Linked DNA regions of Homo sapiens. The protein of the gene in region 2 interacts with the protein of the main gene of each other region in a biochemical or structural test. Each region holds a gene or a part of one and is shown on either strand. Other genes may lie near its edges.

Region 1 (3,901 bases), on a different chromosome or scaffold from region 2:
AGAACAAGTGAACAATTGGGAACTGGGTACCCAAGTGAGTGAAATATTCTGTTCCTTAGTTTTCCTTAATGCGACTTTTAATTAGCTTTCCCATGCTTTAGATACTAAATTTATGAAGAATAAAAGTTAAAAGCCAAATGCTAATCTTGTATCACTGCTTGTCTTGTATACTACTTGTCCTAGGATTTCTATATTACAACTAGGAAGATATGAATTAAAACCACCAAAGAGACTATAACCATAAATAACTTATGACATATGTTCCATTATTAATTGAAAACTCATAGTTAATAAACTTTGGGAAGGAAACTTTCAGGCACATGGCATGGAATATGAAGGTGATGTTCTTTTTATAAATTTTAAAGGTAGCATATATTATACAAATTACTCAAGAGTTTACAAGCAGAAAAAAAGGAGAAAAAATAAAATTCACGCGCACCCTATATTAACATGTAATTCGTAGTGAAATGTGTGAAATATAAACACATGACTTTCACTTATTCATTTTCACTTTACGCTTTTTAATTGAAATTAAATTAGTCACTTAACATACATAATGCAGTGTTTGTTTTCCAGTCTAGTAGCTTTTCAGCATTCAGTTTTGTGGCTCATGGGAAATGTTACTTAGCATCAAGATGTGGTTTGATGAGTGAACAATGTCAGTATCAACTGTACTTAACAGAAGACAGAGGGGCTGGGGTTAATCTGCAGCTAACAACATATAAAAATAAAAACAAACACAGACCCACAATAACATCAACATGCATTATTAGGCAAAGATCCAAAATTAACCCAACCCACACAGATTTCTTCTAAGCTGAGATTACACATGGAAACAGATACTTTATCAAGATCCATAGCCATAGTAGTAAGGTTCATCAGGGCGGAATCCATATGCTGTGGCAGGGCGTCCAAGAATGCCAACTGGTTGGCCAAAGCCATCCATTCCAAGGCTAAAAAAGAAAAAAAAGAATGATAAGCTATGTTTTTCATCACACATCCACAATGCAGATTAAGAGGCCTACATTTTTATACCACCAAGATTCTCTTCCTAGCAGGGATAGTGATTTAGGTGGATATCATTAACTTTTTTTTTTAAGGTTAATAGAGCCATTAAAAGTGTATATAATAAAATACTTCTAACAATGTGTGTTAAAAGTATGGGAAACCTCTGTCAGTAGGTACTATTTGAAACAAAGTGGAAGAATCAAATCAGAAAAGTTTTATTTAATAAATTACTTATATATGGCTCTTAAGCAAAAATATGAAAAGATTTTACATGCTAGCAATGATCAGTAATATATTGCTAGGGAATGATAAAAATAAAACTGTAGTAAAGTGAGTTTTGCTGTTTATAATGTCTTTTCATATGAAGATACAGGACTAATTCCACTTTTAGTAAAAACATGTGTTTGAGTTATATCAGTGAACTCTCATGCAGGGCCAAATCATACCATAAGCCTATGATTAAAAGAACAAGATAAGGAATTTGACAAAATTTGAAAATTAGTCAGATTTGATCTGCAAATCCTTCCTCTGATTCCTCAATGCAAACAATTACAAAACATATCTATTTCTTTTGAGTGACAGCAAGACAATTACAAATTTTGGTTCAACTTATTCTATGGGAATAACAGAAACCCAAAGATAACCTTCAGAGTTGTAAAGATAGCTTGAAGTATGTTAAACTTCATGATTATTATTTTAAAAAAATTACTTGTTGGTCTATTAATACATTATTTAGAGGAAAATCTGTTCTCCAAAGTCCTTTTTAAAGGTCAGGGAATTATCCAACACTTAGGAAAATGATAAAGTATTTATTTTGCCAGGCAGAACATGGTGGCCTTAACATGCTCATGCATAGCTCATGCAGTGAATGCTAGTGAGCTTGACTTCCAATCAATGGACACCATTTGTAATGCAGAAATGTAAGCTTTGGAAAAATAAAACATATTTAAATGATTTAAGATTTAAGTTTGCACTACATGAGATGGAAAGATAATTTTCCCTCAATAGCAAAAACTGAATGTGATGAAAAAATATATTCACATAGGCACTAACTCCCTGTCACACTCAGAGTGAGATTAAGTTGACACACTTTAGAAGTAACTATTAAAATGTTAAGGTTTTAAATAAATGTGTGAATGCGTGTGTGTGTTTGTGTGCACGCGTGCTTGTGTGTATTAAGATGGAACTAAAGAGTAAATGTAAAGAGCCAAAATACATATAACACATACTGGTCCAGTGACTCTGCCCTTTAGGAGAATGGAAGTTCTGAAATACAAGTTTCAGGTTAGCATTTGTACTGAGCGATTCTGGACAAAATTTGTTGTTTTGGGGTCCTTCTATATAAAAACTCTGTCTATAGTTTCTCAAAGTTGGTTGAAATTTTTAAGTCTACATTTTATTTTGAAATGGTAAAAATATAGGCACTTTTTCTAACTTTGATCTCATGGGAAGAGAGACTAAATTTTGTGATGAGGAAATCAAGAGGTAGCTTAAAAGATGCTTCAGAAATTAGTGGAATCAGTGAACTAAGAGACACTGGTATCAGCTTAAAATTAGAGAAGTTATTGAAAACTGTTCTCTGCAAGCACTAAGGCTAACAAGTAATCATGTATCTAAAGAACTCTCAATTATATAACTGTTGATTACATAGCTTGGATTTCAACTTGTTCCTTCTTCATCTTTTGCTTATTACCTGTCTTCAACCAGTCCTTATCTTTTTTAGCAACTCCTCTGAGGCCAAATAGCAGTAGACTTAGGTTAAACTCAAGTTAATCTTATGCTTGTTTCTCAATCTAGGGGCTATGGCAAGATCTATTTCAGTAATATGAAAACAAGAGGCATATGTGGGACAGTGAGGAAACATGCAAAGGCACCTTCAGAGTATCTCACAGACGACTTGTTAGCAATATCACTGTAATTCTACCTAAAAGAAGATGGTCCTCAGAAGGGAGTTCACCAGTCATTGGCACAGAACAAGGAGCGTCTCAGCTACAACGCTGGTTGTAGCAACCTAGGCAATTGCGTGGTGATCTGGTAAGCTATAACACCATAAGGAATATCTGGCCTTTTTGCAGTTTGGTCCTCAATCAGGAAGGGAATTTAACATTCTCAGAGTCTGAGGCCATTCTACATTCAAGTTGCAAAATTCTCCCCCTTTTTTTTATTTCTACGACTAATAGGCAAACTATTGATCACTGTAATTTCCCATGTAATTTGCCAACAGGTTAAATAATAAACTTAGATATTACCTAATCCACCTGATGGTTATAACTTTCATTGTACATTAACAAATGGATTTTTCTTTTTAAAATATGTCATGCACATTGTTGATAAAAACCTGCAGTCCCAAGTCAGTGAAAGACTGGCCCTTGAGCACTGATGAGTCTGAGTTTCTGAACCTGTAAATCTCTGGTCTTGAACAGTATGGTCTTTAGGTTACTATGGTAAAGATCTATTTATGTAGTCAGCAGTTCACCCAGAGACATCTGTGTGTATTACAGTGTAGAGGATATCATTTAATTTTTCGAATTTCTATATACAAATATCGTTTTGGAAAAAAGGAATAAAATTTGAAACCAAACTCTAAAATGATCTTTTCTGGAATTCTCCATTATGTATCACAGATGAACTTGCTGTTTAAAGCAAAAAATATTTAAAACATTTATGATCAGTTTGGAGAGTACTTTGACATAGGTCCTAGGTCCTTTTGTATTATGAAAAATCAACTATATCTACATACATTTTTAATTAAATTCACTGTGAAACATAACAGTTTGTTTCTTTAAACTCTCATTTGCTTCTTTCTAATATAGTGGGGGAAATCAGGCTTTCTAGGATGCTAAAACCTGGAGACATTCTTTTGGAATATGTAGACACTTTACTTTTTTCCTTG
Region 2 (7,034 bases):
GAGTATTGAGTATTTGTAGTATTATTTTTAGTGAGATAATTGAAATTTTAAAATAAATACTTATGGGCAAGGACTTTAAAATGACCTTATTTAAAAAGTTTTCTCCTTTACTATTAAATTAACTGTGGGCTTTTACATTTTTTCTTAGATCGATAAAGAGGAAGTTTCACTTCGAAGAGTTATTGGTGCCAAAAAGGATCAGTATTTCTTAGACAAGAAGATGGTCACGTAAGCATTTTTCTTTTTTTTAAAAAAACTGAATATGTACTTAAATAGAGATGGGGTATTGCTGTGTTGGCCAGGTTGGTCTCGAACTCTTGGCCTCAAATGATCCACCTCGGCTTCCTAAAGTGCTAGGATTACAGACATGAGCCACCACGCCCAGCCAGCATTTTTCTTTTTCTCAATACGGAGTCTTGCTCTGTCGCCCAGGCTGGAGTGCAGTGGCGCAGTCTCGGCTCACTGCAACCTCCACCTCCCGGGTTCAAGCTATTCTGCTGCCTCAGCCTTCTGAGTAGCTGGGATTGCAGGCAGTCACCACCACACCCGGCTACTTTTTGTATTCTTAGTAGAGACGGGGTTTCACCATGTTGGCAGGCTGGTCTCGAACTCTTGACCTTGTGATCTGCCTGCCTTGGCCTCCCAAAGTGCTGGGATTAGAGGCATGAGCCACTGCGCCCAGCCCGCAATTTTATGATTTCCTTACAAAAGAGTAAAAAGTATTCTTTTACCTGCTTCATATATGAGGAATATTTGCTTCATCTTCAACAAGTCAACATATAGAGGATAAACATAAGAATCAGAAAGTTCTGAGGATGATACAGATGGTTTAATTACTGATCTTTCCTCCCTAATGCTATCAACCAAGGGGCTACTCTACTCATTGCTTAATGGTGCTTTAAAATTATTTATCGGAAAGTAATTTCATTGTTTGTCAACAGGAAAAATGATGTGATGAACCTCCTTGAAAGCGCTGGTTTTTCTCGAAGCAATCCTTATTATATTGTTAAACAAGGAAAGGTAAAACAATTGTATGTCCTTTTTAAGTAGAATTTGTTTTCTGAGTAATTCTTGAGTGATGAATTTGGTTTATTGATTTGAGTGGTTAAGCTGAAGCAAAAATGGCCATATTCTTTTACATGGCCATAAAGTACCAAATAGGTCCATTGCATGTTGAGATGGAAGTATTTCAGCATATTAAGTGGATCTTGTTTTCCTAGTGACTGGTATTACTTACTGAGGTGAAAGTATGGGAAGACATTATTGGCTTATGAATGTTGCAATAATTAAGAATATTGTAGGAATTCTATAAAAATCACATTTGAAAAACTTTCTAAAATTAATATTTTGTGTTACCTAATTATTTATCACAATTAAAATACTGAAAAGCTAACATTACCAGAAATCTGCCATTTTGCCACATGTTATTTTCCCTAATAGGGATTATGTTTTTACATTTTTTCAGCAGCCAAACTACAAACTTTTTTAGCTGATTGTTCTGCTCTCTTCTCATATACTTTCACTTTTTTTTTGGACTAGGGAAAATTCTCAAAGAATATTCACTTATTTTATACTGTAGGCCTTTTTTTCTAGATATGTATTGGAAAGTTAGCATTTAGAAGAAGTGATTAGGAAGAATATGGAGTTTCAGTTTTAGAAAATGTGTTACTGGAAGAACACGTTTTTTTCCGATTTAACTATTTGTGGGAGATAAATTTTTTTAAATGGAGGCTGATTTGAAAGAGCACTTTTCTGAGATCCGTCTGCTGTCAATCTAGGCCCTTTTACTTCATTTCAGTTTCTGCCCGTATGCCATCCTTGATTGCCTCATCTGAAAGCATTGCCGTCCCCTCAACCCTATGTGCTTTATTTCCTTAATCTGTTTTATTTTTCTTCATAACACTTACACTGTTAGGATAGTACTTATTTTCTGTCTTTTTCCATTAGAATGTAAGCTCCATGAGGGTGGGACCTTTTCTGCTTTGTTTGCTCTTTTCCAGTGCCCAGCAGTGGCACATATGTTGTAGCCATTTGAAAAATAATTTTTAAGTGAGGAAATTGCATGAACCAATATGTATAATTGGAGCGTTCAATAATGAGGATCTGAAGGATGATTCTTTGATGTAGATACTTTTGATAGACCTATTTTCGTAGAGATAATTTCAATTTTTTAATGCAGTGATATCATTTTTGACATTTAGGGATACTTGTTATATATTAAGTTGCATGGCACTTAAGTTGTACCATTCTCTCTATATTTAAAGCATACCATTTTTGTCATATCATTAGCCTTCTGTATCTGTAGGTTCCACATCTGCAAGTTCAGCCAACCATGGATCAAAAATATTTAAAATAAATAAAATTTTAAAACAGTACAATAAGAAATAATACAAATTTAAAAATACAGTAAAACTATTTACATAGCATTTACATTGTATTATTATAATTAATCTAGATATTAAAGTATATGGAAGGATGTGCATAGGTTATATGCAAATACTATGCCATTTTATATAAGGGACTTGAGCATCCTTGGATTTTGGTACCTGCAGGGGGTCCTAGAACCAATCCCCATGGAAACTGAGGAAGAATTGACTTTTAATATATTATTGTAGCTTTAAAAAAAAGTGTAGTCAGTGATGGTTTTCCCTTATAAAAATACTTTGTTTTTTGAGAATGGAGCTCATCTTTTATACCTTATCATATTGACTAAGAAAAAGATGGTGGTGTGAGATACTCCTTCACTTGTTAGCCCTATTCATAAAGGAGAGTTATGACCGTAACAGTTGTATTTGGATTTTATTTGGTAAATTTCATTTAAGTAAAGGAGACATAGATATGTAGGCATGCGTACTATACAAATGACATTAGCCAAATCATAATCTGTTTAAAACTTGGCATGTCCCAAATTCAAAAGTCTGAAATACAGAATGCTCTACAATCTGAAACCTTTCGAGTGTGGACATGACATTCAAAGGAAATGCTTGTTGGAACATTTTGGATTTCAAATTTTTGGATTTGGGTTGCTCATCTGGTAAGTATAAATGCAAATATTCCAAAACTTGAAAAAATCTAAAATCTGTAACACTTCTGGTTTCTAACCATTTTGCATAAGGGATACCCAACCTTCATGTGTATTAAAAACCTTTCAACGTGGAGTTCTTCTTCTTAAACGGAGGCTACAGCTATGTAATGATTATTTTTCTAAAAATTTTAGATCAACCAGATGGCAACAGCACCAGATTCTCAGAGATTAAAGCTATTAAGAGAAGTAGCTGGTACTAGAGTGTATGACGAACGAAAGGAAGAAAGCATCTCCTTAATGAAAGAAACAGGTAAAATAAATGTGATTCTGCCTTATTTTTTTGTTGCAAATTACTGTTTTTGTGACAGAGTGGCTCCATGATGGGAATATAGTAGGTGTTTAGTATATGACAGCATTAGATAATGCTGTTATTAATAAAAATTGAGAATCCATAACACCAATGATGTTAGTAGCTTTTAAAAATATTGTGGAAACGCACACTGACTTTTTTTTTTTTTTTTTTTGAGATGGAGTCTTGCTCTGTCACCCAGGCTGGAGTGCAGTGGCGCGATCTCTGCTTATTGCAACCTCTGCCTCCCGGGTTCAAGTGATTCTCCTGCCTCAGCCTCCCTGAGTAGCTGGGATTACAGGTGCCCACCACCATACTCAGTTAATTTTTGTATTTTTAGTAGAGACAGGGTTTCACCATGTTGTCCAGGCTGATCTCGAACTCCTGACTTCAGATGATCCACCTGCCTTGGCCTCTCAAAGTGCTGGGATTACTCATGAGCCACTGCGCCTGGCCGGCACACTGACTTTTTAAAAGGAAGCTTAAACTGAGGCCCTTACTACATGTTATAAAAGAACCAGTGTCACCATGTGTAAATTTGTTCTCTGGTGCTTTTCATAATAAAGGATCTTAACCCATTTATGCCTAGCATTCCATTATTGGAATCCTAAGCTTGTGGATGTTACTTATATTCTACTGCTCAAGGTCATTGCCAAGGTCTGATTTTTCACAGAAAAAAATTTGCAACCTCTGGCATAAATGGGTTAATTGCTATTTTAGTATTTTAAATTGGGTTACCACATCACATCAAAGAAATAATGCTACAGTTCTTAAAAATAATTTAATTCAAGGTATATTTAAGAAGTGATATTACATAAAAATCTTATTCAATTCTTCCACCTCTCTCCCCATTTCTTTTAAGAGGGCAAACGGGAAAAAATCAATGAGTTGTTAAAATACATTGAAGAGAGATTACATACTCTAGAGGAAGAAAAGGAAGAACTAGCTCAGTATCAGAAGTGGGATAAAATGAGACGAGCCCTGGAATATACCATTTACAATCAGGAACTTAACGAGACTCGTGCCAAACTTGATGAGGTAAAATATTTACCTGTGACACTTAAAATCAGATTAATTTTGTTTTTATGAATTTGTTAAACTCAGGCCATAATTACACTTTTCAGTGATTTTAAATAGAAACTTAAAAAAAACCTCTCAATGAATTTATTAGTCAGCAAGTTTTTTTAGTTCAAGGAAATTAGCCATGTGGTCCTTGCTATATAGTATTATCTGAAATATAATCAGATGGTGGTATTAGGCAGACAAGATGAGAGGAAAGCCATTTTGAAGGCTTCTTGTAGTTGTAGTATATCCTAAACTACACATTTTGTACAAAAATTTAGTGCTTCAGTTTTCTAGTTTAAAATCATTTTTAAAATTTTTGTAGAAAATTTGAGCAGTTACTTTTGGTTTATTTTAATAGAAAAATTTTTATTAGATGTTATGAAATATTTAGTAATTACAAAATGAGTTAGATATGATAAGTTGTTTTTTTTCTTAGCTTTCTGCTAAGCGAGAGACTAGTGGAGAAAAATCCAGACAATTAAGAGATGCTCAGCAGGATGCAAGAGATAAAATGGAGGTAAGATTATAAACAAGGTTCATGTTAACTTACTTTTTACTTTTGAGACAGGGTCTTGTTCTGTCATCCAGGCTGGAGTACAGTGGTGCCATCATGGCTCATTGTAGCCTTGACTTCCTGGGCTCAGGCAATCCTCTTGCCGCAGCTTCCTGAATAGCTGGAGCACAGGTGTGTACCACCACACCTGTCTAGTTTTTAAATATATTGTAGAGACAAGGTCTTACCATGTTGCCCAGGCTGGTCACAAACTCCTGGGCTCAAGTGGTCCTTCTGCCTCAGCCTCCTGAAGTTTTTTTTTTTTTTTTGGAAGACAGGGTCTCACTCCATTGCACAGGCTGGAGTGCAGTGGTGAGATCACAGCTCACTGCAGCCTTGATCTCTCAAGCTCAAGTGATCCTCCCACCTCAGCCTCCTATTTTTGTTATTTTTTGAAGAGATGGAATCTCAGTATGTTGCCCAGGCTGGTTTTGAACTCCTGGGTTCAAGGAGTCCTCCCACCTGGGCCTCCCAAAGTGCTGAGTTTACAGGCATGAGCAACCATGTCCAGCCATCGTATGTTTTTGACCATAGTAAACCCTTTTGTACCAGAATTATGGAATGATTACACAAGGGAGAGTTAGAGGAATTGAATATTGAAAGGACAGAGTATTACTAAACATTAAGTGAAAGAGAATTAATGGTGTCACAATTCTGCTATTGTACTTCTAATTGCCTTATTTTCTGTTTAATACTTTTGAATAGGATATCGAACGCCAAGTTAGAGAATTGAAAACAAAAATTTCAGCTATGAAAGAAGAAAAAGAACAGCTTAGTGCTGAAAGACAAGAGCAGATTAAGCAGAGGACTAAGTTGGAGCTTAAAGCCAAGGATTTACAAGATGAACTAGCAGGCAATAGTGAACAAAGGGTAAGTTAAAATGCTAAAAATGAAAGATGTGAATGTTCAGGTGAGTAGCAACTGTAGAAGACAGCCCTTTCTGTGACTGGTGTGTGTTGGAATTTTTTTTTAAGCTTTGCTACGTTAGCATAATTTGTACTCAAGTAACAACTTGGTACTGTCCCTTTGTTTCTTACATTAAAAAAGAGTTTCATGTTACAGGTGGGTTTTCTCATGAAGTTTTTTTCCTGAGAAAACATTTATGCTAGACCTAAATTATGCAAAAAATTTAAAGCAGTTTGCATTTTTACTTTGTTTACAGAAACGTTTATTAAAAGAGAGGCAGAAGCTGCTTGAAAAAATAGAAGAAAAGCAGAAAGAACTGGCAGAAACAGAACCCAAATTCAACAGTGTGAAAGAGAAAGAAGAACGAGGAATTGCTAGGTCTGAGAACTTTCACCAACACTTTAACTTTCTACATCATATTATGTAAAACTAGGTTGTCCGAGGAGCTCAATTATATAGTAGCTGCTTTTTACACTTAATTCTTTTTGTATCTTTTTGAAAAATGGCTTTATGTTTCTGTGTGCAGTTGACATTATTGGTTGCAATTAAACTTGGTTATTATTCTCCTTTTCATCCCATTTGCTTCTATTTTGTGTAGATTGGCTCAAGCTACCCAGGAAAGAACGGATCTTTATGCAAAGCAGGGTCGAGGAAGCCAGTTTACATCAAAAGAAGAAAGGGATAAGTGGATTAAAAAGGAACTCAAGTCTTTAGATCAGGCTATTAATGACAAGAAAAGACAGATTGCTGCTATACATAAGGATTTGGAAGACACTGAAGCAAATAAAGAGAAAAATCTGGAGCAGTATAATGTAAGAACTTCTATAGCTGCTTTGTAAAAATCTTTCAGAAGAGATAAATGTGTTTAGTTTTATCTACTTCAAGTTTTCTTTTTAAATAAGTCTACATGTTGCTCTTAAAATATATGACAGATACTTATTTAGAAAAGGCCTGCACAGTTTAATATACATATAGTTCTTTTTTAAAGAATATTCATGTCATTGAGCCTTTATGTAGATTAAGTATATTAAAATGTATGTATGTATTTTTAATTTTTTTGAGATAGGGTCTTGTTCTGTCACCCAATCTGGAGTGCAGTGGTACAAACACAACTCACTGCAGCCTCCACCTTCCAG
Region 3 (7,178 bases), on a different chromosome or scaffold from region 2:
CAGCCCTGAAGTTCCAAGGACTGGAAGGCCAAGGGCTCTCCCAGGCGGAGCCCTCAGTGGGCAGAAGCTTACATTCGGTCATTCAACAAGAAGGGGAGAACTGGGCCATGGAGGCGTTTGGACTGGGCGTAGAAAGATAAGAGCTGCCGAGGCAAACACAGGGAGGAAGAAACGTCAAGACACAGCAGAGGGAGCCTGGGAAGAGCACAGAGCATTCAGCTTCTGTGGGGCACAGGGAGAGATGAGGCCAAAAGAGCAGCCTACTGGCAAGTCCTGGGTTATGAAGGGCCTTGAGTTTCACAGGAAGGAAGGGGAGCAGAGGCTTTGTCCTGTCAGGGGCCACTGGTGGGTTTTCAGCAGGAGATGGGCCTGGGTAGATAGGTGTGCTGCAGAGATCATTCTAGAGCAAAGTAGAAGACAGCCTGGTGGAGGCAAAACAGGTAACAGGAAGGCTGGGAGGAGGCCGGTGAATTAATCCAGGAGAGGGGTGATGGAGCCCCAGAGAAGGAGCACTGCCCAGGTCCTGCCCACAGGCCAGCCAGCCCCTGAGGGGCACACATCATCCATCCGAGAACCAGGCCAGGCAAGCTCCGTGTGAGAAACTGGGCCACTACCCAACCAGAGTGTTACTCAGCCACAATGATGGTAATAACAGACGCCGGGCGGCAGTGCAGCTGTTCCCGCAGCTGTGGTTTATTTACTAACAGCGCATAGGTCTTTGTGTGCCACAGCCCCCAGTGCCTAGAATAGGGCCTAGCAGAACCAGTGCTCAGTAAACACTTGTCAGAGGAGATAACGCAAGCCAGGGAACTGGGCATGGGTCCTGAATCTGCCGCCCATCAGCTGTGCAACTTGTTGGCCCTCAGCCTAGCTGTGCCTTCATGTATTCCTCTAGAGGGCAGGAAAAGTCCTGTGGTTTCCAAGGCCACTTCTGACATGGCCAGGGCCACCTGGGCCTTTATTCAGCACATCCACTCCTGTCCACCAGGGGGCACTGAGCTCAGCCCCAGCAGCAGCAGGAGCCCTGGGAGGACCAGTGACTGGCGTCTTCTCAGTCCTTTCCCCTCCTGTCCCTGGAGCTGCCTCCCAGGTGGCACCAGGATAGACTGCCCATAACAGGAGGCCTTGAAGGTGAGAGGGGGAGAGCAAGGACCAACCCTCTACAGTCCCAAGGACCCCCACATACATCCCATCACAGAATTCAACAGCCATCCCCTCCCCTCAAACAGGAGGGAAGGTTAGTCCAGACAGGCTAAGTAACCTGCCCAAGGTCTCACAGCTGTGATCTAAGTGATAACAGCTGTAACAGCAACAGTGAACATTTATAGAGTGAACTCATTTAAGCCTCAACAACCCTCTGAGTTATTGTCTGCTTTTCTTCCCATTTAATGGATCTGGAAAGTAAAAGCTCAGAGAGCTGTCCTAAGTCACACAGTTCTTGAGCTCTGACCTCAGGTCTCGTTCCCCAGTCCCACCAGCCCCTCCATAGCACAGCCCTCCATACACCAGGGCAAGCCAGTCCGGGCGCAGTGGGGGGCCTCACCTGGATGTGCATCCTGGCACGGCGCAGCAGGCTCAGCGTGGTGTACCGGGCACAGTCGGCCCCCAGGGGCATCTGCTGCTTCAGCCGCTCCAGGCACCGCTTCAACTGGGCCCTCCTGTGGGGAAGAGGTCTGGAGGGCAGTGCCAGCCCCACCTTGCCGGCCACAGGAATGGCAGGGGAGGGAAGGCCAGAGGGCAGTGGCCCCTGGGGGCTGGCGCTGTCAGGGCAGGACTGGGACTCACCTGCGCTTCTCCAGTTCATTGTGCACTGACCTGCCAATGCCAGAGAGGATGAGGTGAAGGGGAATCAGCTACTGCCCATGCCCCAATCCCAGGGCCCCCAGTGGCTCAAGAGCCACTACAGATGTCTGCCCCAAACAAGTCCCCTGTGGAGAGCTCATGCTGGCCTCAGACACCAGAGTCCCCTGGCAGGGCGAGGGGAGTCAAAGACACACGGAGCCAAATGCTTAACAGAAGCCTGCCCAGGTGGGTATGAGGGCCCTAACAAGGGCGCCTGCCAGCTGGCCAGAAAGGACCTCCCAGAGGTGACAGCTAACTGCGGAAACAGATGTTTCCCAAGCCGGTACTGGAGGGAGGGGCATTCAAATAGGAGGGAACAGCATATGCAAAGGGCTGGGGAGAGGAGAGAAGAGGAGGAAGCCAGCGGGGGAGGTGAGTGGCCTGATGTGTGGGGTGCGGGAGTGCGAGTGGAAGCGGGACCCCAACTGCTGTTGGCAGTTCCCGGCACATCTAGAGGTGCTCAAGAAATAGTCCTTGAATGAATAGAAAGGTGTGAGTGTGTTTGGAGAGTGGGGAGATGGCAGGAGGGGTCTGAACGCTTCCTGGAGCGGGACACCTGGCCCAAAAGATGCAAGCAACAAGTGGGCAGAGGAGGGCCCGACCAGGGGCGGCGCCCACCCCCACCCCCACTCCCGCCGCCCCCGGCCTCCTCACCGCCCGCTGTCCTGCGCGCCAGGAGCCTGGGGGGGTCGCTTCTTCCTCCTGTGGATGGGGCCTGGACTGCGATGCGGGCACAGGGACGCATAACCATGCTCGGCCTCTGCCAGAGAGAGTCCCCGCCCGCGTCAGGCTGGGGCTGGACCTGGTCCCAGCGGCAGCCCCAGGCACAGCACGGTCAAGGAAAGGCTTTTGGCGCCAGGACCATTTCCCCCACCCGTCCCTGCTCTACCGCCCCGGGACTCCTCTCGAGTTGAGGGCGAGGCGCCCCGGGATTACTGTCCTAGGGCGGTGCATCCTTCAAGCTGGGAGCCAGGTCCAGTCCAGGCCCGTGTCAGCGAGGTCGCCGCCCGGAATTCAGCCAAGGGTCCTTCCTCACCTCTCTCACGGCGCTCCAGGAACTCGGCCGCCTGCAGCAGGACCTGGATGTTGCTGGCCAAGGGTTCCATGTCGGCGACAGCTGGCGGCGGGCCGGCCTAGGGTGCCGGCCGGAGCAAGCGGCTGCAGCACTTTTGTTACAAAGTAACTGACACGGTGCAACAAACACAGGGGCCCGCCCCGCCCCCGGGACGCCCCGCCCGCGGGAACGCCCAGCCCTTGGCTCCGCCCCTCTGGAACCCGCCACGGAGCCGCAGCCCACCCTCCGGCAGCCGCCCCGCCCCGAGTGGTCTCAGACTTTCCAGGGGCAGGTAAGGGCGCTGGCTCCAGGCCTGGCCCTGGAGCGAACCCTCAGGCTAACCGGTGCTGCTTCTTGCCCGCCTCACTCATCCACCCACGCCGGCTCATTGGCGTCTTTGATCTCAGCTTCCAGCCCCGTGCTAGTGACTAGCCCCCAACATAGCACGGCGCTCTGGGGGCCTGGTGGTCCCCTGAAAGCGCCGGGCCCAGCCGCTGCACGTGGGTGCCGCGGGGGCGGGGCCTCCGGCCGCCGCTCGCCCATTCGCACATGGCTTCTCAAGGATCGCTGTTGTCATCCTCGGGGCGGGGTCGGGGAGCCTCTGATGCCCTATTGGCTGGCGCTCTGCCCCGCCCTCTCCCGCCGCTGATCCACACGTTCGGGCGGGAAAAGAAGCAGGTTTCAAATTTGAAAACCCAAGCGATGGGGCGGGGTTGAGAGGGGAGCTGGGCCTCAATGCGCAGGCGCCGGCGGAGGGGCGGCGGACCCGGCTCCTGCCCTCCGGGGTCTGTCCCCAAGCCTGCCTGCCATCTGCCCCCGAAGGCCCCCGTGGGCCCCAGCTTCCTACTGTGTCGAATGGGAATAATATCTCGGCCCCCCTCCTCTTCTGTGAGGAAGCTGTTGTTGCTACGAAAACGTCAGTGGGGTAACAGCTTCCTCAGGCAGGCCATACCCTGGAGGCACGCGAAATGGCCTTTTCCGGGGCCTTGGGCTCTGGTATCCACGCAGTTGGGGTCCTCTCCTGTCACTGATGTCTCAGCTGTGTATGACTCAGGAGGTGACCTCCGTCTCTAAGCCTCAGGAGCCCTGCGACAGCGTTGAAGGATCAGAGCCAATGCCTCTGCGGTGCCCATGGCATGAAGGAGCCGCCCATCTCAAAGGCCAGTGCAACCAGACCGCGGCGTTTGCCTCCCAGGCAGCCCCTGCTTGCCTTACTCAGAGTCCATAAACCCTTCTTGCACCTGACTCTCCTAGCCGGCCGAAGGAGTGGCTGTGATGACTTCTAGCCTCAGCACCAGCAGGTGGGGCCACATCTGGGGACAGGAAGATGAACGCAGCTGTAGCAGGGTGGAGCATTGCTGCCAGCCACGGGCTGAGTCTGTGACTCCAGTAATCCCAAAATAGAGAGGGGAGGGAAGGTGGGAGGGATAGATGCTCTGTAAAGAGACAGTCCTGGTAAACACAAGCACATGTCAGTCAGGCCTCAGTTCCTTGGGAAAAATCTTTTTTTTTTTTTTGAGTCTTGCTCTGTTGCCCAGGCTGAAGCGCAATGGCTCAGTCTCGACTCACTGCAACCTCCGCCTCCCGGGTTCAAGCAATTCTCCTGCCTCAGCCTCCCAAGTAGCTGAGACTACAAGCGCCCACCACCACACCCAGCTAATTTTTGTATTTTTAGTAGAGACGGGGTTTCACCGTGTTGGCCAGGCTGGTCTCGAACTCCTGACCTCAGGTGATCCACCCACCTCAGCCTCCCAAAGTGCTGGGATTACAGGTGTGAGCCACCGTTCCTGGCCGGGAAACATCTTGAAGTTTCGGCCAGGCGCCGAAAAAAAATGAAGTTTCTCTAAGAGTTGCTCACAGCGGAATAACTGCCCTGTCTAGGCAGACGATCCATCTACCCAGCCGCCTGTCCTTAACTCACAAAGTATTTGCTGAGCTCTCACTGGACACCAGGCGCTGTGCTGGGGGCTGGAGGACATACGATAGGCAAAATCATACAGGGTCCCTGCCCTTGCAGAGCTCATAGGCTTGAGAGGGAAAGACACCAATACAGTCGCAGGAAGGCGGAGGTCCAGCTGGACAGGTCCTCACAGGGAGAGACCATGCCCCACAACACATTCTAAGGAACATTTGACCTAATTGGTGAGGCCAGAGAAGGCTTTACTGGGGAAATGGATGAAGAGGTGTTATCTAAGTATAGGAGAGATGAAAGAATTCTAGACAAAGGAACAGCACATGCAAAGGCCCTGGGGCTGAAAGGAGCATGGCAGGGGCGGTGTGGCTTACAGAGAGCAAATAGCCTGGTGCAGGCTGACACTGGAGAGGCTGCAGGGCCCAGAACATGCTGATGGGTTCCCCCAAACTCCCCCCTGCAATCAGCCATCTCTGAAGGAAGGAGCCGCAAGGGTTGTGAATGAATTTCCAATTTTATTTCACTAAAGTCAGCACCATGCAGTGCAGACACGAACCTACTCAGATGTCTGGGCCCTAGGTGGCCTGGCCTCCAGTCTGGGTGGGATAGGGGTGGGGAGGTTCTGAAGGAGGAGAATTTTCAGCAAAGGGAAAGAAGGAAGCATATGTGAGCTGAAGACATGGCCAGGAGGTGGTGGGAGTCGGGGTGGGGCTGCAGAGGGGCTGGAGGGCTCATGTCAAGGAGTTTGGACTTCATCCTAGGAGCTGCAGAGCGGTTTTGAGCCAGGGACAGCATGTGGGCTGGGGTCAAGGCCACCGGCCAGGCCAGACAGGAACAATACCTCCCCAGGAACAGGATGGGACGGGGCATGGGGGGATCCAGCCTGGACCAGCAGGGATCCTGCCCCAAGCCCTTGGATGTCCCCTGGGCCCCTGTGAGAAAATGCTAGAGCTAGTGGCCTCTAGGCACAGGACTGGACAGAGGAGCTGCAGTGCCCCCCCAGCAGTGACCAGCCCAGATCCTCTGCCCTGGAGTCCGCAGGGTCCTGCGCTTCGCCCTGTGACCTCCTGCCTCCACCAGCCCACTGTAACTGGGGTTCTGCTGCCTGTACTTGCAGTGCAGACTCTACCCGGGTCTATGGTCCTCTGGGCTCCAAGGACAGAGTCTGCATCTGTGCCCTGAGTGGAAGGGGAGAAGGGAGACCCCCCCGCCCCAGGCCTTTGTCCCAGTTAGGACCCCTTGAAGAGGGGAGCCAATCCTGGGCTCACCGTCCTCCTCCACTCCATGGACACTCCATGGTGCAGGAGGAGATGGCCCTGCGTTCCCCAGATCCCTTTCCCCTTCTCCCCTGCAAGGAAGAGTCATCGGGGGAGTCGGGAGCCTGGCTCCGACCCTGGAACCCTGCCCAGCCTCCTCCCTGGGCTGCCCGCAGCCTCCCCTCTCCCAGAGAGCAGCACTCCCCAGTCACAGAGCTAACCAGGTCACGCCCCCACTGAAGGCCTCATGCCCCCGCTGAAGGCCCACGCTCCCATGGCCTTCAGGACAAAGTTTGAGCTGGGCAGGGGACATGCCATGGCCTTGCCCACCTCCCTGCCTCTGCCATCTCTGCTCAATGTCACTTGCTCCAGGAGGTTCCCAGGCCTCCCTCCTTCAGCGCATTCTCCCAAGTAGCAGTGGGCCCTGCATCTCTCAGGGTCAGCCTCTTCCTGCAGACTACGACCTCAGCGACAGAGCAAACCAATGCCGAACAGGGGCTTGGCCAAGCCATAGGCAAGGGGTAGGGAAGGGCTGGTGGGCCTGTGTCTCCATGCCCATAGGATGTCAGAAGAAGCAGTCAGCAGACCCCCACACAGAGGCCACCTCTGGAACGCACCCCCCCCCCCCGCCAACCCCAGCTGTTGTGGCAGTGCAGCATAATGATCAGGAGTTGGGTGCCAGCCGGTCCCTCGCTTGGTGTCACAGGGGCTAAGCCAAGAGGCCAGCCCTGGCTAGACAGGTCTCAGAAGTGCCTGGCAGCCCCTGCTATCCGGGGAGGAACACTGCAAACAGGCCTCTGTAGGCTCAGTAGTATGGCCATTTTTTTTTTTTTTTTTTTTGAGGTGGGGTCTTCTGCTGTCACCCAGCTGGAGTGCAGTGACACAATGAGGGCTCATTGCAGCCTTGACCTGCTGGGCTCAAGCAATTCTCCCGCCTCAGCCTCCCAAGTAGCTGGGACCACAGCTGCATGCCACCATGCCTAATTTTTTTATTTTTTGTAGAGATGGGGTTTCACCATGTTGGCCAAGCTGGTCTTGAACTCCTGACCTCAGGTGATTTGCCCCCCTCAGTCTCCCAAAGTGTTGGGATTACTGGCTTGAGCCACCGCACCCG
Region 4 (7,448 bases), on a different chromosome or scaffold from region 2:
GCTGAGGCAGGAGAATCGCTTGAGCCCAAGAGGCAGAGGTTGCAGTGAGCCGAGATCATGCCATTGCACTCCAGCCTGGGCAACAAGAGCGAAACTCCATCTCAAGAAAGAAAGAAAGAAAGAAAGAGAGAAAAGAAAGAAAGAAAGAAAGAAAGAAAGAAAGAAAGAAAGAAAGAAAGAAAGAAAGAAAGAAGGAAAGAAGGAAAGAAGGAAAGAAGGAAAGAAGGAAAGAAGGAAAGAAGGAAAGAAGGAAAGAAGGAAAGAAAGAAAGAAAGAGAGAAAGAAAGAAAGAAAGAAAGAAAGAAAGAAAGAAAGAAAGAAAGGTGATGTGGGAGTGCTTCAAGTAAAAGAAAAATTATCCCTGCCATGATATTCTCTGTGCAATGCTTCAATATGCTTATCAAACAAGAGAACTATTGCTGAAAGAATTTTAGCATCTTTTTTACTAAGGCTTCTTTTTTCAATTTATTTGTTCAAAGGTTCCTGGATCGTGGGTTCCATTTTACAGAGATATGAAAGCCAATCCGATAGTGTTGCAGGTATTTACACTGCCTTTAAATTTGTACTTTTCTCTGGGAATGACAGGGGAGAAGCAGATGGTGACACCAGTGGGGTTTCTGATTTGAAATGACACAGTCTATATGATTAACCAGCAACAAGAGGCCAATCCAACCAGAATCTAGGACTAAGACTGAGTTTTGAGTGTTGGCAACAGGAAGAGTGTGCTGAAAGCACTCTGCCCAGGCAGAGTGTAGAGAAAATGGATTCATCTAGAAAATTATAAAAGACGAAATGAATATCACAGCTCTAGGGTTCAGACACATGCTCATTTGAAACAGTCCATAATATAGACTGATTGTTTTTTGTCAACTCATTATCCAAGAGCCAAGAAGTGCTGCATGAATGACCATCTGGAGATGAAGTTAAAGTGAAAGCCAGTGCTGGGAAACTAGTCACTCAACACCCAAACTGAATCCAGCATTTGTGGAAAGACCTCAGGCTGTGGCACAGATGAGAGTCAGGCGTTCTGACTGGCCCCACTATAGCCTCCAGGAGGGCTCTGTGGATTGGGGTTGGCAGCACTTCCTTAGATGGTGACCCTGCCTTCCTTCCTTTAGCCCACTTTCTTTCGCCCTCCTCTCTTCACGGAGTGCTTTCATCCTTCAACTAAAATGTCTGAAACAACCTTATTTTCCATCCTGGCAAGCTTGCACCATCCTCATTCATAGCTCATCTGGGAGCCTTCTTTTCCTTAAAGTAGGATTAATACAAGCGATAGCTTATTCCCTTTAGACTTCCAAGATCAAAAATAAATACGTACATACATGAAAATGGCAGAAAGAAGGAACCATGGGAGGGTCGCCTTTTCTTTTTCTCTTTACCACAGAACAGAGCGCAGGACTATAGTCTGATTGTCCTACAATCTATTCCATTTATTTTCACTCCCAATAGATGGTGTAATTTGGAAAAGAAAAGACACTCACGGGGCTTAACAGAGACCCAGTAGGAAACGCATAAACGTCTCCCTGCAGCACAATGATGCACTCGCTGCATCTCGGGGCTGCGGTACAAATGCTCAGTCCCTGCTTTGCTGAGCTGACCCGAGTGGAGCGGAGCGGTGGAGATTTCACCACGCTAACCCCGCTGGGCCTCGGCACCTCCACACAAGCCCCATTCCATCTCCTTCTTCCCATCACTTGGTCCATAGATCAACTGATTCCGTGCCTCGTCCCCCATATCCGTCCCTAAAACCTACCCTGCACTGATCCACCTTCAGATTTCCCACTGCTCCTCCGCAGAACCCACCCAGTGTGCATGTTTGTGCACATTTTGACAGAAAAAGTATTTCGTTGCATATGGATCAGCAACCCCTTCGCGGTTCTGCTTGCTCCCCTCCCCCTCCTCCCGCTGCTCCATTCACCTCCATCTCAGATCCCCCTCCTCCCCCCAGTCCGGTGGGGTAAAGAAAGCCTCCTCCAGGCAGCACAATGGCTGGCACTCTGAGGAAGCCGGACTCATCCCGTGCAGGCCGCATACACACTCCACTGCCCTTCCGGCCAAACAAGCCCGGACACGGGAGAGGGATGAGAGTCGGGGATGCCTAGCGGCGAGGAGAGAAGGGATAGGCAAAAGGGAAGAAGAGCGGGCTGTGATACCTCCTCGACGCCGTCAAACACTGCTCCCCGCATTCCAGAGCCCGGGGCCCACCCGACGGCAGCGCGCCCCGCCACCGCGCAGCCGCCCCGGTCCCTTCTCCCGCCCGTCTGTAGTAAAACAATCGCTCTCCCGGCGTCTGCGGCCGCTGCCAGCGGTTCTGACACTGCAGGAATGCGCGGTCTGGGGAAGGCTCCGCACTCTGGGGAGGGGCACGAGCGGGGTCGGGGGTAAGTTTTTAGGGACAAAGATGATCTTGGGGCGTTTACGGTGACTGGACCAGATAACGGTCCCGGGACGAGGTACCGACCCACTGCCCCAGCGCGATCGGGCGGCGTTCCCTTCTTCCCCCAGCCCCCATACCTCGCCGCCCTGCCTTCACACGCGCGCACACACGCGGGCACACACACGCGGACACACACACACACACACACACACACACACACACACCAGGCCTGGCTGGAGGGCCGATGCTGAGATGATACTGGAAGTGCCCATCATCCCACATCTCCAGGGCCTGGCGCGGCGTCCCAGCTGCGCTCCCTGAAGGGCTGGGCAGGAAGGCGACGGCCTCCCGTTGTTCCTTTCTAATCCCAGAATGGGACCAGGTGAGGGGAGCTGCGGCGACCCCAGACCGTCCTGTCAGAGAATCCCGGGGCCTCCTTACCACCCCCACCAGACCCCACCCCCAGCAGTGAGTCGGGTCCTAACTAAAGTCAACCCCCGCGACGGCACCTGTGCGGGTCCTGGCGGAGGGAGGCGGATCCCGGGGCTCAGCCGGACACCCCCATCCACGGGCCGCGGGAGCGGCCGGAGCGCAGCGCAGCGCAGCGGAGAGCCAGCCAGCCAGCCAGCCAGCGAGCGCTCCCCGCGCAGCTCCGGCGGCGCCCGGCTCCGCTCCCGCCTCCACCCCACCCCTTCCCCGCGCTCGTGCCCGGGCTCCGGGGGCGCGCCCGCGCTCGGGCACCCACCCAACTGGCACGCGCGGGAGCTGGACGTCATCCCCTCGTTAACATTCATAGCCTTCCTCCGAGCACGTGGGCTTGCCTTTATTAATATTTATGCATTTCTGTTTCTCTCCTCTTTAACATTGGCCTTTCTGCTTCCCTCATGAATATTCAGAAACTCCAAGATGAAAGCGTGCAATAACTACCAATATGGATACCTCGCAAAGCCTGACACTAGTTTCTGGATAAAATGCAGGCGATGGCTGCTGGCGGATGCCGGCAGACACACTCAAAGACCCTTTTGGACTTTCCGAGTTTCCCATTCTCCTCTACTGGAGGCTGAGGCGGGCAGGCCCAGCGACGTCTCCCAGCTCCAACTGGGTTCGGACCTCAAGCCAAAAATGAGGAGGCCGGCAGGAGAGCTTTTCTCGCCCAAAGATGCTGGGTGGGAGCTGGATCCAGCTGAAAAATCTGAGTGAGAAGGTTTCAGGCCCAGGAGGACTTGAGATAATACAGGAAAATTCAAGAGGCTGAAATGAGAAGGGTCCCTGGAGTCTTGTGAAAAATTATTAATTTATCTTGTCTACTGTGCATAGGCCTGTGCTTATAGAAGTTGTCAATAAAAAATCTAATAATTCACGAATACACACAACTAAGAGCACAAGAACTGTAATTATCGAAGGAAGGCACTGGAAAAAGCATGTCGGCTTGGAGAACCCCAAGTACTTTTGTCTGATGGCAAAGTACCTCTGGGCTGAACTGAGGACTTCAACTGGAAGGGGCAGGGAGCGTCTCTTTTGCTCGTTTATGCATTCATTCCACAGACATTTCAACCATGAGAAGGATGGAAACAGGAATAATGTCCCAATGAGATGAGAAGAAGCGTTGGCCTATTTGCCTTTGTGGGAGCAATAGACAGAGGATGTCTTCCTGTAAGAAATCATAAGGCCAGGCACGGTGGCTCACACCTATAATCCCAACATGTTGGAAAGCTGAGGCAGGAGGATCACTTGAGGCCAGGAGTTCAAGACCAGCCTAGGCAACATAGTGAGACCCCATCTCTATAAAAAAAAAAAAATTAGCCAGGCATGGTGGGCCCATCCTGGTAGCCCATCCTGGTAGCCCCAGCTACACTGGAGGATGAGGTGGGAGGATCGCTTGAGCCCAAGAGGTTGAAGCTGCACTCCAGCCTGGGCGACAGCAAGACCTTGTCTCAAAAGTAAATAAATAAATAAATAAATCACAAAGAGTAGCTGGTTAAAAGATCCCTAGATCTCCTTTCTTGGGATCATGCCCAGTTTTGTGACCTTGGGTTAGTTAACTTCCCTGTGGCTCATTTCCTCATCTGTAAAATGAAGAAAATAATAGTGCCCGCCGGGCGCGGTGGCTCACGCCTGTAATCCCAGCACTTTGGGAGGCCGAGGCGGGCGGATCACGAGGTCAGGAGATCGAGACCATCCTGGCTAACACGGTGAAACCCCATCTCCACCAAAAATACAAAAAATCAGCTGTGCGTGGTGGCGGGCGCCTGTAGTCCCAATTACTCGGGAGGCTGAGAATGGCGTGCACCCAGGAGGCGGAGCTTGGAGTGAGCCGAGATTGCGCCACTGCACTCCAGCCTGGGTGACAGAGCGAGACTCCGACTCAAAAAAAAAAAAAAGAAAGAAAATAATAGTGCCCCACTCTATTGTGGCCTGTTGTGGGATTAAAGGAGTGAATATGAGTAAAGTACTTCCAGGTTTATTAGAAGGCACTATATGTATGTATGTGTGTATATATATACACACACACATATATATGTCATATATATGTCTCATATAGATGTCCCATATATACGTCTCATATAGATGTCCCATATATATGTCTCATATAGATGTCCCATATATGTCTCATATAGATGTCCCACATATATGTCTCATATAGATGTCCCACATATATGTCTCATATAGATGTCCCACATGTATGTCTCATATAGATGTCCCACATGTATGTCTCATATAGATGTCCCACATGTATGTCTCATATAGATGTCCCACATGTATGTCTCATATAGATGTCCCACATGTATGTCTCATATAGATGTCCCACATGTATGTCTCATATAGATGTCCCACATGTATGTCTCATATAGATGTCCCATATATATGTCTCATATAGATGTCCTATATATGTGTGTGTGTATATATATATGTGTGTGTGTATATATATGTGTGTGTGTGTATATATATATGTGTATATATATGTATATATATATATGTCTTGGCTAATTTGAGGCCATCTTTTGTCTAGATCTTCAGAGCATGGGACAAACAGATTTGAGAGAAGCTTGTGAAGTACTGAAAGTGATAAAGAACTTGGTCTTCAGCTGGTGACCTTGTTAGTTATCCTCTCTGTACCTCAGTTTTCTCATCTGTAAAATGGAGATGCCAATATCTGCTGTTGGATGCCAATATCTACTACAAGGTTGTTGTTATGCATATTAAGTAATATAATGCATGCAAAATGCTTAGCACAGTGCCTGGCATATAATAAGAAACCAATTAGTGGATTCTGTGGTTATTTTTGTGAGGCTATGAAGAAACTGAAAGCTGAGGACAAGTAGCCTAGGCTAGGTACCTAGGATGAGAAATCCCTGAACATGAGCCCAGTTATTCTTCCAGCAAACACTTATTTTATTGTAGTAAGATATATATAACATAAAAATTACTATTTTAACCATTTTTAAGTGTACAATTCACTGGTATTAAACACATTCACATTGCTGTGTAACCACCACCACTATTCATCTACAGAAATTTTGTTATCCAAACAGAAACTCTGTATCCATTAAACACTAACTCCCCAGTACTCCCTTCCCCAGCCCCTGGTAACCACTATTCTAATTTTGTCTCTAAGAATTTGACTATTCTAAGTACCTCATGTAAGTGTAATTATACAATATTTGTTTTTTGTATCTGACTTATTTCACTTAGCACAATGTTTTCAAGGTTAATCTATGTTGCAACAATGTCAGAATTTCTTTTCTTTTTAAGGTAAATAATATTCCATGGTATGTATATACTACATTTTGTTTATCTATTCATCTGCCCATGGACATTTGGATTGTTTCCACCTTTTGGCTATTGTGAATAATGCTACTAATCTGTCATGGGATTAGAGTGAGAAAGAAAGAATAAAAAAATAATGCTGCTGTCAACATCGGTGTACAAATTCCAGCAAGCATTGGTTGCATTCCATGACCTAGGCTAGAAGCTGGGGAGCTAAAAATGAAGGCATGCTTTCAAGAGGTTCCATGTTTAGTATGTTGATTTCCAAACTCTGCTGCTTAGAACCTGCAGTGGATTGAATGGTATTTTCCTAAAATTTGTGTCTACTCAGAACCTCAGAATGTGACTTTTACAGATGTAATCAGTTATGATGAGGTCATACTAGATTCGGGTAGGCCCTAAATCCAATGACTGGTGTCCTTATAAGAAGAGGAGAGGAGGCTGGGCATGGTGGCTCACACCTGTAATCCTAGCACTTTGGGAGGTGAGTAGATCAACTGTGGTCAGGAGTTCGAGACCAGCCTGGACAACATGGCGAAACCCCATCTCTACTAAAAATTAAAAAAAAAAAAAAATTAGCAGGGTGTGGTGTCACATACCTATAATCCCAGCTACCTGGGAGGCTGAGGAAGGAGAATCGCTAGAACCGGGGAGGCGCAGGTTGCAGTGAGCTGAGATCATGCCACTGTACTCCAGCCCAGGTGACAAAGCAAGACTATGTCAAAAACAAAAACAAAAAATACAAGAGGAGAGCATGCATAGGAAAGGAGGCAGAGATTGGAGTAATTCAGGTACAAGCCAAATGACACCAAGGATTGCCAGGAACCACCCAAAGCTAGAATGAGGCAAGAAAAGATTCTTCCCCAGGACCTTCAGTAGGTAGCATGGCCCTGCTGACAGCTTGATTTTGGACTTCCAGCCTCTAGAACCATGAAACCATAAATTTCTATTTAAAGATCATTTGTCGTGGCAGGCCTAGGAAACTAGTACAAATTTTGGTAGTAGAAAGTGGGATGCTGCTGTAACAAATATTTAAAAATGTGGAAGTGCCTTTGGAACATCGTAATGCAAAGAGGCTGGAAGAAGTTTGAGACACATGACAGAAAAAGCCTATATTGCCCCAAAGAGACTGTTGGTATAATTATGAATATTAAGGGCAATTCTAGTGAGGCTTCAGAAATGAGGAGACTGTAGAGAAAGTTTCTACGGTCATAGAGAATACATATATTATTATAACAAATAGGAATATGAATGTTAAAGGTGATTCTGGTAAGGTCTAAGATGGAAATGAGGAACTGTT

What was found.
Region 1: the proteins of SMC3 (region 2) and KIFAP3 form a complex in vitro, tested with the Homo sapiens proteins (one study listed by BioGRID).
Region 3: the proteins of SMC3 (region 2) and MXD3 form a complex in vitro, tested with the Homo sapiens proteins (one study listed by BioGRID).
Region 4: the proteins of SMC3 (region 2) and FEZ1 form a complex in vitro, tested with the Homo sapiens proteins (one study listed by BioGRID).

The regions. Positions count from the first base shown.
Region 1 is NC_000001.11:169,920,829-169,924,729, forward strand, and holds the end of KIFAP3 (kinesin-associated protein 3), read right to left. Parts: intron 2,275-3,901; coding exon of another isoform or gene 2,238-2,274; intron 954-2,237; coding exon 848-953; 3' UTR 501-847; downstream 1-500. UniProt on the Homo sapiens protein: Involved in tethering the chromosomes to the spindle pole and in chromosome movement. Binds to the tail domain of the KIF3A/KIF3B heterodimer to form a heterotrimeric KIF3 complex and may regulate the membrane binding of this complex.
Region 2 is NC_000010.11:110,577,687-110,584,720, forward strand, and holds part of SMC3 (structural maintenance of chromosomes protein 3), read left to right. Parts: intron 1-148; coding exon 149-228; intron 229-941; coding exon 942-1,020; intron 1,021-3,217; coding exon 3,218-3,335; intron 3,336-4,236; coding exon 4,237-4,412; intron 4,413-4,875; coding exon 4,876-4,956; intron 4,957-5,697; coding exon 5,698-5,862; intron 5,863-6,154; coding exon 6,155-6,276; intron 6,277-6,496; coding exon 6,497-6,710; intron 6,711-7,034. UniProt on the Homo sapiens protein: Central component of cohesin, a complex required for chromosome cohesion during the cell cycle. The cohesin complex may form a large proteinaceous ring within which sister chromatids can be trapped.
Region 3 is NC_000005.10:177,308,883-177,316,060, forward strand, and holds the start of MXD3 (max dimerization protein 3), read right to left. Parts: upstream 3,017-7,178; 5' UTR 2,949-3,016; coding exon 2,879-2,948; intron 2,603-2,878; coding exon 2,497-2,602; intron 1,816-2,496; coding exon 1,786-1,815; intron 1,659-1,785; coding exon 1,544-1,658; intron 1-1,543. UniProt on the Homo sapiens protein: Transcriptional repressor. Binds with MAX to form a sequence-specific DNA-binding protein complex which recognizes the core sequence 5'-CAC[GA]TG-3'.
Region 4 is NC_000011.10:125,493,232-125,500,679, forward strand, and holds the start of FEZ1 (fasciculation and elongation protein zeta-1), read right to left. Parts: upstream 3,035-7,448; 5' UTR 2,890-3,034; exon of another isoform or gene 2,605-2,889; intron 2,385-2,604; exon of another isoform or gene 1,983-2,384; intron 1-1,982. UniProt on the Homo sapiens protein: May be involved in axonal outgrowth as component of the network of molecules that regulate cellular morphology and axon guidance machinery.